3 separate regions of the Homo sapiens genome follow, and all the other regions are linked to region 2. Evidence: fine-mapped QTL for protein levels in blood plasma. Region 2 holds a variant in brackets. A gene starts in each other region. All regions are shown on their forward strands.

Evidence for each region. PIP is the posterior inclusion probability: the model's chance that the variant is causal. The UK Biobank Pharma Proteomics Project read protein levels with antibody pairs (Olink). The fine-mapping took linkage between variants from a reference panel, not from the people measured, so its PIPs are less certain.
Region 1: WFDC1 starts here. The variant in region 2 is fine-mapped to the plasma level of the WFDC1 protein (UK Biobank, PIP 0.95).
Region 3: GDF2 starts here. The variant in region 2 is fine-mapped to the plasma level of the GDF2 protein (UK Biobank, PIP 0.98).

The regions. Positions count from the first base shown.
Region 1 is chr16:84,293,701-84,296,200 of GRCh38, forward strand. WFDC1 (WAP four-disulfide core domain 1) reads left to right here and starts at 1,178. Exons shown (of 7, transcript NM_021197.4): 1 at 1,178-1,415. The coding sequence starts at 1,272. LOC124903734 reads left to right here. Exons shown (of 6, transcript XM_047435022.1): 6 at 633-1,138. The coding sequence ends at 1,138.
Region 2 is chr2:224,014,608-224,017,454 of GRCh38, forward strand. All of the region lies in intron 1 of SERPINE2 (serpin family E member 2), which reads right to left. The region is part of intron 1 of LOC124907990 (a long non-coding RNA gene); the gene reads left to right. Among named protein-coding and RNA genes, the nearest start is that of SERPINE2, 23 kb to the right of the region's middle. RefSeq lists an enhancer at 481-980. The variant T/C (reference allele first, on the strand shown) is at 1,174.
Region 3 is chr10:47,320,752-47,323,598 of GRCh38, forward strand. GDF2 (growth differentiation factor 2) reads left to right here and starts at 1,703. Exons shown (of 2, transcript NM_016204.4): 1 at 1,703-2,263. The coding sequence starts at 1,918.

The sequences.
Region 1 (2,500 bases), not on the chromosome of region 2:
ACCTGGGTTCCAGCCTCCTCTCTGCTGCTGTTGCATGACCTCAGGCAGCCCCCTCTGTTTCCTCATCTGTAAAGCGGGCATCAAAACAGTGTCTGTTTTGGGGCCGGGTGTGGTGGCTCACACACCTGTAATACCAGCACTTTGGGAGGCTGAGGCGGGCAGATCACTTAAGGTCAGGAGTTTGAGACCAGCCTGGCCAGCATGGTGAAACCCAGTCTCCACTAAAAATACAAAAATTAGCCAGGCATGGTGGCACATGCCTGTTATCCCAGCTACTTGGAAGGCCGAGACAGGAGAATCGCTTGAACCCGGGAGGCAGAGGTTGTAGTGATCTGTGATCACACCACTGCACTCCAGCGTGGGTGACAGAGCAAGACCCGTCTCGAAAAACAAAACAAAACAAAAAACCAGTATCTGTCTTGGAAGTGCTGAGAACAGACAAGGGAATATGAAGTTTGTGAAATGTTGAGCCCGCTGTGCTACATTCCTGTAAAACACACACGTGCACATGCACACCCACGTGCACACACGCATACACATAAATGCACATGTGCAGATACACCGGCTGACAGTGACAGCACACTTATGTGTGTGAAATGCTTTATGTGCTCAATTTCTTTTAAATCTCACAGGAAACACACGCTATGAGGAACTACCCACATGCCCACATCAGGCAGGAGGACCCCGGCGGGTGCAAGGGTGGAAGTCGTCTCTTCATGGCTGCACCCTTGGCCAGTGCCAGTCCAGCAGCCTCTTTCAAAGAAGCTTTTATAGGCAGATAGTTTGTCAGCCCAGCTCGAAATGTGAACAAGGTAGCAGCCGAGCCCCCACCCATCCGGCTGCACTCCCCTGCATGTCCAGCCCCGAGCCCTGTGTCAAGCACACCTCCTTGGGAGGAGACCGCCCCAGCCTGCAAGGAAGTGCTCATTATGGAGAGTGGAGAGTGACAGGCCACTCCCGGCCACGTCTCCAAGCAAGCCGGTGCCCCCTCCTCCTGCTGCCACCGCCCACTGAGCTGCCTGGGCTGCAGACGCCCTGGTTGGAGCGTCTGGGGCCAGATGTTATAGGGCAAGCTAAAAATAACCGGGCAGGCCAGCCACCATCGAGGAAGGGGCATGTGCTGGACGCGGACACATGATCCGAGGGACCCTGCTGGGTGGAACTAAGAAAGTCCAGCAGACTGTGCACGCTCCTGTCCCCACTCACAGGCCCACGCAGCGAGGGGGGCCCCTCTTCTGTGTGCGTCTGGAAGGTCGCTGCCCAGGGAGGAAATGCCTTTAACCGGCGTGGGGCCGGGCAGCTGCAGGAGGCAGATCATCCGGGCTCTGTGCCTCTTGCTACTTCTCCTCCACGCCGGCTCTGCCAAGAATATCTGGAAACGGGCATTGCCTGCGAGGCTGGCCGAGAAATCCCGTGTAAGTGCCTGGGATGGGGAGGCTGGGGCAGCCTGTGTGGGTGGGAGTCAGCCTTGAGGAGAGGCGATCCCTAGACACTGCCTTCTCCTGTAAGTGCTCCCCCAAAACGTGGCAAGGCAGGCGTCTTCCTATCCGTGTGTGTCTGAGTTGTGTGGTGGGCAGATGGGGCTCACCCCCAAAAAAGGACCCTTATCTGTGAATCAAGAGGCAAAAGACACATCACAAATGTGCCAAAGAATCGTGCCTTACTTTTGCCTTGTTACAAAAGTATGCTTGCTCCTGAAAGACAGCATCTCATTTCGGAACCCCAGGATTTAAACGGAGCATTCCGTCTCCCTGATCAGTACCAAATGTTTGTGAAATACACTTATGCATTCATGTGGTTGTTTATTCATTCAGCAAACAGAATGAATACACTCTGTTAAACAGAATTTAGCAGAAACCGCTCTGGGGAAGGCACTCTGTGGGGTCCTGTGGATACAAGATAAAGGAGGTACCAGCCCCCATCCTCAAGGGTGGCGTGGCCGAGGTGCAGAGGCAGTTGGGTGACAAACGATGGCAGTACAAAGAGAAGGCATGAGGCAGTGAGTGGCAAGAAACACATGCCCTGGGGCCAGATGTCTGGGTGTGAATCGGGCTCTGCTGCTCATTAGCTGCGTGGCTTCTCTCAGGCAAGCTGCTTGACGTCTCTGAACCCCAGCAATCTCATCTGCAAAAGACAGAGGGATGCATTTCTTCACACAACTATGTCTGGGTCGCCACTGTTTACCAGGTACTGTCCTAGGCTGTGGGGATACAGGCCTCACATCTCTGCCTGGGGAACTCAATGGGGGGCTGGGGGCAGCAAAGAATAAATGAGAGAGATCTCATTTATTAGTATGTGCAGATTGCAAGTGCTGAGGAAGCAATAAAGCAGGAAGGGAACTAGGAGAGAGAATGGGGTGGAGGAGGCTATCATTTTTGGTTCCTCCCACCCCCCAGAGATCACAGATCCGCAGGGACGGAGTGAGCCAGGACGATATCAGCACACAGAGGGCTCAAGAAGGTAATGCTGGCACCCACAGCACCTGTGTGAGGATTGAATG
Region 2 (2,847 bases):
CTGACATAACTCTTCAGTGTGGGGGCTGTCTTGGGTACTGCATAAGGAAACCCATATCCACCTGAATACAGAAGACTCTAGATTCTCCTGGGTCTCAAGTGCCCAACAAAACCCACTTTGTTCCTTTGAAGTCAGGGTAGCATTTCCAAGGCTGCCGTGTAAACAAGTGTCCCCTATTAAGTTGGTTTATCCCTTAATTTATCCTACAAATATTAATGAAGCACCACAGTGCCAGGCCTGGCGCTGGGATGCTAGAGAGAGAATAGGCATGAAAAGGGGCTTGGTACCTGCCCTCCCACCTCTCAGAGTCTCAAGGCATGGTTCTCCACCTGGGTGACTCTGTCGCTCAGGGAGCATTTGGCACTATCTGAAGACATTTTTTTTGGTTTTCACCACTAGGTGGGGGCCAGGGAGGGTGGTGCCATGGCATCTGGTAGGTGGGGGCCAGGGAGGGTGGTGCCGTGGCATCTGCTAGGTGGGGGGAGGCCAGGGGTGCTGCTGAGCAGCACCCACAATGCACAAGACAGCCGCCTGCAACAAAGAATTATCCAGCGAAATGTCAGTAGTGCCAAGGTTGGGGAAGCCTGGTCTAGAGGGGAAACAGACCTTAATCAAATCGTCTTATTACTTGATATTTACTTTCATTTTCACGTATTTACTTTACAAATGCTCTGACATCGAGGAGAGTGTGTAAGAATGGAAGCAGAGGCACACCTGGGCCAGGGTGAGAGGCAGTGGCCAGGGAAGTGCTCCTGGGAAGGGCCACATGGGCAGACATTGGAGGATGGACTGGAAGTGACTGGACAAAGGGGCGGAGAGATGGAAGCAAGGAAGAGTATTCCAGACAGAAGCTCTCAAGTGCAAACAAACCTTGTGTTGGGAGGTACCATGGATTATTCTGGAAATATTTTTCCTTTCATACCATCATCACCTTACAGCCTTTGCAAGACAAGGGCAACTCTGTGTCCATGACTCCAACAAATAGGCAGCTCATCAAGACATACTGCAGAACCCAACCGGACAGAAACTGGAAGAATCATTCACACTCCAGTGTCTATCTTGTTCCATGGCTCTCTTTCTCACCACCCGGCACTGCGCATGACAACAGGCAGGAATCAAAACCCTAAGTTGACATTAAAAGCCTGAGTTTCATAAAACGAAAAACTGATAAAC[T/C]GAAAAACTGATCAATTGGACCTCATCAAAATGAAAAGTTTTACTCTGCAAAAGATCCTGCAAAGATGATGAAGAGACTAGGAGAAAATATTCTCCAATCACGTATCTGTCAAGGGACTAGTATCTAGACTACACAGAAAACTCTTAAACCCCAACTGTAAAAAAAAATCGGATTAGGAAATAAAAGACATGGATAGATATTCCATTAAAGAGGATGTATAAATGGTAAATACGTCCATTAAAAGATGTTCAACATCATTAGCCACTGGGGAAATCCAAATTTTTAAAACCACAATGAGATGTCACTATATGTCCAGATGAATGGCTAATACTAGTGACAACACCAATTGCTGGTGAGGATGCAGAGAAACTGGATCACTCACACATTGCTGGTGGGAATATAAAATGGCACAGCCGCTCTAGAAAACAGTTTGGTAGGTCAGGTGCAGTGGCTCACGCCTGTAATCCCAGCACTTTGGGAGGCCGAGACAGGCGGATCACCTGAGCCCGAGGTCATGAGTTCAAGACCAGCCTCACTAACATGGTGAAACCCTGTCTCTACTAAAAATATAAAAATTAGTCAGTCGTCGCGGCAGGTGCCTATAATCCCAGCTACTCGGGAGGCTGAAGCAGGAGAATCGCTTGAACCCGGGAGATGGAGGTTGCAGTGAGCCGAGGTTGTGCTATTGCACTCCAGCCTGGGCGACAAGAGCGAAAGTCCGTCTCAAAAAAAAAAAAAAAATAGTTTGGTAGTTTCTGTTTATTATTTATTTTTTTTTAATGTAAGTTTGGCCGTTTCTTACAAAACTAAACATGCACTTAACTGTATAATCCAGCAATGCTGGACATTTATTAGAGAGAAATGAAAATCATTTCACATAAAAACCTGTATACCAATGTTCACAGCAACTTTATTTTTTAATAGTCCCAAAGTGGAAACATCCCAGATGTTCTTCAGTAGGTGAATGGCTAAACTGTGGTACATCCACACCACAGACTACTACTCAGTAATAAAGAGAAATAAACTACTGACACACAAAACAACTTGGTTGGATTTCAAAGAACTATGCTGAATGGAAAAGCCTATTTCAAAAAGATGCATAGTGTGTAATTCCATGTATATAACATTGTTGAAATGACAAAGGTGCAGAGATGGAGAATAGATCAGTAGTCACCAGAAGTTAGAGAACAAGAGAGGGAAAGGGATGTGTGTGACGATAAAAGGGAGGCATGAGGGGTCCCTGTGGTGGAAATGTCCTGTATCTTGCCTGTGGTGGTGCCCACACAAGTCCATACATGTGATAAAACTGCATAGAAGTAAATGCACACACCCCAGTGAGTACCTGTAAACCTGGTGAAATCTGAATAGGGTGGGTGGATTGTGTGATGTCAGTTTCCTGGTTGTGGTACTGTACTACAGTTATGCAAGATAATGCCTTTGCAGGAAACCAGGTAAAGGGTACACGAGAGCTCTCTGAATTACTACTTTTTTTTTTTTACGACTGCATGTGAATCTATATAACTATCTCAAAATAACAACAAAAAAACCCTACTGTAAAATTTTAGTCAGCAAACAAATGCCAATGTACCTTAAGACAGATCTTTTTATTTCTTACTTTTTCCCTGTACTGCAAATGTACAATCACACAAAAATGTAATATTTTTGGTCCTTTC
Region 3 (2,847 bases), not on the chromosome of region 2:
TGCTAACCATGGGCATCACTGGATGATTAAATTGTAGGTTATTTATTTTCTCTTTAATGTTTTCCATTTCCCAAGTTTTCTATACTATAGACTACTGTTATAACAGGGGAAAAAAATGTCACATTTAAAAAATAACGTCAGGTAGCAGCCCCTTGCTCCTCCCTGAGCACATCCAGGCCACTAGGCTATCCCTCTGCTCAGCCTCTCGTGTGTGAAAAGCTCCTGGCCAGACCATGTTGCAGGCATCTGCCCTGTCCTCACTCCTCCCGGACCACACCTCACTCCGCATTTGCAGCTCCATTTCTTGGGCATGGCACCCATTTATTCATCTTTTCTCTGCCCCATGGAATTCTTGCACTGAGCTGGATCAAAGCCCAGCACACTTCCAGTCCTCTTCCCAAGCAGCATTTCTGAAGCAGCACGCTTCCCGTCTTCCCCTGGCCCATGTCATCAAAGGACAGAGATAGCAAGTTCTATTCAGGCCCAGCCATTCAGGGGCTCCTGATTTCACCCATCCCCCTCTGCAATCTCTGACCGCAGCATGCTGTGGCCCCTCCTGCACCCCCCTAAACCTGCTCAGCTCTCTGCAGCCTCTCCCGGACAGCCTCACCAGCATAGAATACCTTCCCCAGAGTAAACCACCAGGCACAGCATACCCCAGAGTGTTTCTAACCATGATCCTTCTTTGCTTTGCTCAAAGCCACACGTGATGGAAATGGACAGAGTCTAAGTGTGGACATACTGCTCTTAACGCAGTCCCTGGGGCCCTTTCCTGGGCCACAGCTTATCAGCCTCCAAAGGCCAGGGGATCATCTTCTTGGCATGTACCACTCTCAGAACAACCCACCTACTCCCCTGTCTACCAGATTGCGTGGTTCTCCCTGCTGATGAGTGTGGGCCAGGTGGCTGCCAGGTTGGTGTGAGCTAAGACCACCCCACAACAGACCAGTGACACAGCTGGGATGCAGGGATGTGGGGAGCTCCCCACAGGCTGCAGTGTGTTGTGGAGCTCCGACAGAGCAGGCTGGGGGAACCCAGGGCTTCCTCCCCCAGCTCCAGCTCAATCAGGCCTGGGCTGGAGAGGGGGCATCCAGAATGCAGCCACCAAGCCAGCCTGGGGCACAGCATCCTCTTAACCCCTATAACTATCTTCTGAATGGGAGGCTCCAAGAGCTGCAGTGACTTGTTCCAGGTGACATTTGCAGGGAATCGGTGAGGGAGTTGAGATCCCAGCCTGTGTCTAGTTTGACTCATCACCGCACTAAATTGCACGGGAGCCATATTCACTCGTGATCTCTAATGCTCAGCAGTGCATCCCACCAACAGAGCAGGGAGGCTTGCTGGCAGGTTCCGATTCTGCAAGGAGCAGGCCTCTTCTGAGCCCTGATGTGGTCCCCACACTCTCCCCATCTCCCCAGCCCCCACGGTTCACTGTGATCTTGTGCTGTCCTTTCTATATTTGGAGGACTACTTGGTCTTGTTTCCTGGATTCTTCACTCCTGTGGCCCAGGAGATGGAGCATATGTCACCCTGCCTGGAGATTCTTCTGAAGAGCCCTGGCAAGGAAATGAGAAAGTATCCTAATTAGGGGGCAATAACCCCCTGGAGAAGCACAGATTCTTTACAGTAGGCCGTGTCCTTCCCGCATGCCCTGTGTGTTTGTCAGATGTTTATAGAGCCTTCATTAACGGAAGGCTCCCTCAGATAAGACGTCGGAGCGCGGCATCGAGGACCAGATAAGCACAAGTGGAGGACAATCCAGCCCGGCAGCGGGTGAGAGTGGGTGCTGGCCAGGACGGTTCCTTCAGAGCAAACAGCAGGGAGATGCCGGCCCGCTCCTTCCCAGCTCCTCCCCGTGCCCGCTAACACAGCACGGCCGCCTGCAGTCTCCTCTCTGGGTGATTGCGCGGGCCTAAGATGTGTCCTGGGGCACTGTGGGTGGCCCTGCCCCTGCTGTCCCTGCTGGCTGGCTCCCTACAGGGGAAGCCACTGCAGAGCTGGGGACGAGGGTCTGCTGGGGGAAACGCCCACAGCCCACTGGGGGTGCCTGGAGGTGGGCTGCCTGAGCACACCTTCAACCTGAAGATGTTTCTGGAGAACGTGAAGGTGGATTTCCTGCGCAGCCTTAACCTGAGTGGGGTCCCTTCGCAGGACAAAACCAGGGTGGAGCCGCCGCAGTACATGATTGACCTGTACAACAGGTACACGTCCGATAAGTCGACTACGCCAGCGTCCAACATTGTGCGGAGCTTCAGCATGGAAGGTAGGGTCTCCGCTTGCACCATGCGCGCTGGGGTGGGACTCACAGGTCCACAGCTGCTTTCCCCAGGGTGGAGGCCACTGGCCATAGGAGGCTCTTCAAGCTTCCATTTAAATTAGTTACAATGAAATAAAATTAAAACTTATTTCTTTAGCCTCACCAGCTTCCTTTCAAATGCGTGGCTAATGGCTTCCCTATCAGGCAGTGCAGACTGAAGAACATTTCCATGGTTACTGAGAGTTCTACTCAGCACTTCTGTTGTGAAGGATTCACCTTCCCCAAGCTGTGTGCCACATTTCACACAGCAGGTGCACAGGGATGCCAGCTCTCTTTTTTCCACCCCTTCTCTTTACTCTCCTCTTCTTTGCATCACTCCCCTCTGATTCACTTCTCTTCCTTTCCCCCTTCCCTTCCTGTCCCCTTCCTACTTCAGAACAGAACAGGCAACCTATTTCACCTCCAACTAACTGGGATATTTTTAAATTTTCAAAGCACATCTATTCCTTTCTTATGAAACGGTTTTAAAAATCAGATAAAATTCTTGGACAGAGAAGTGTTGGCAGAGAACCTAATTGTTTTTAAATAGA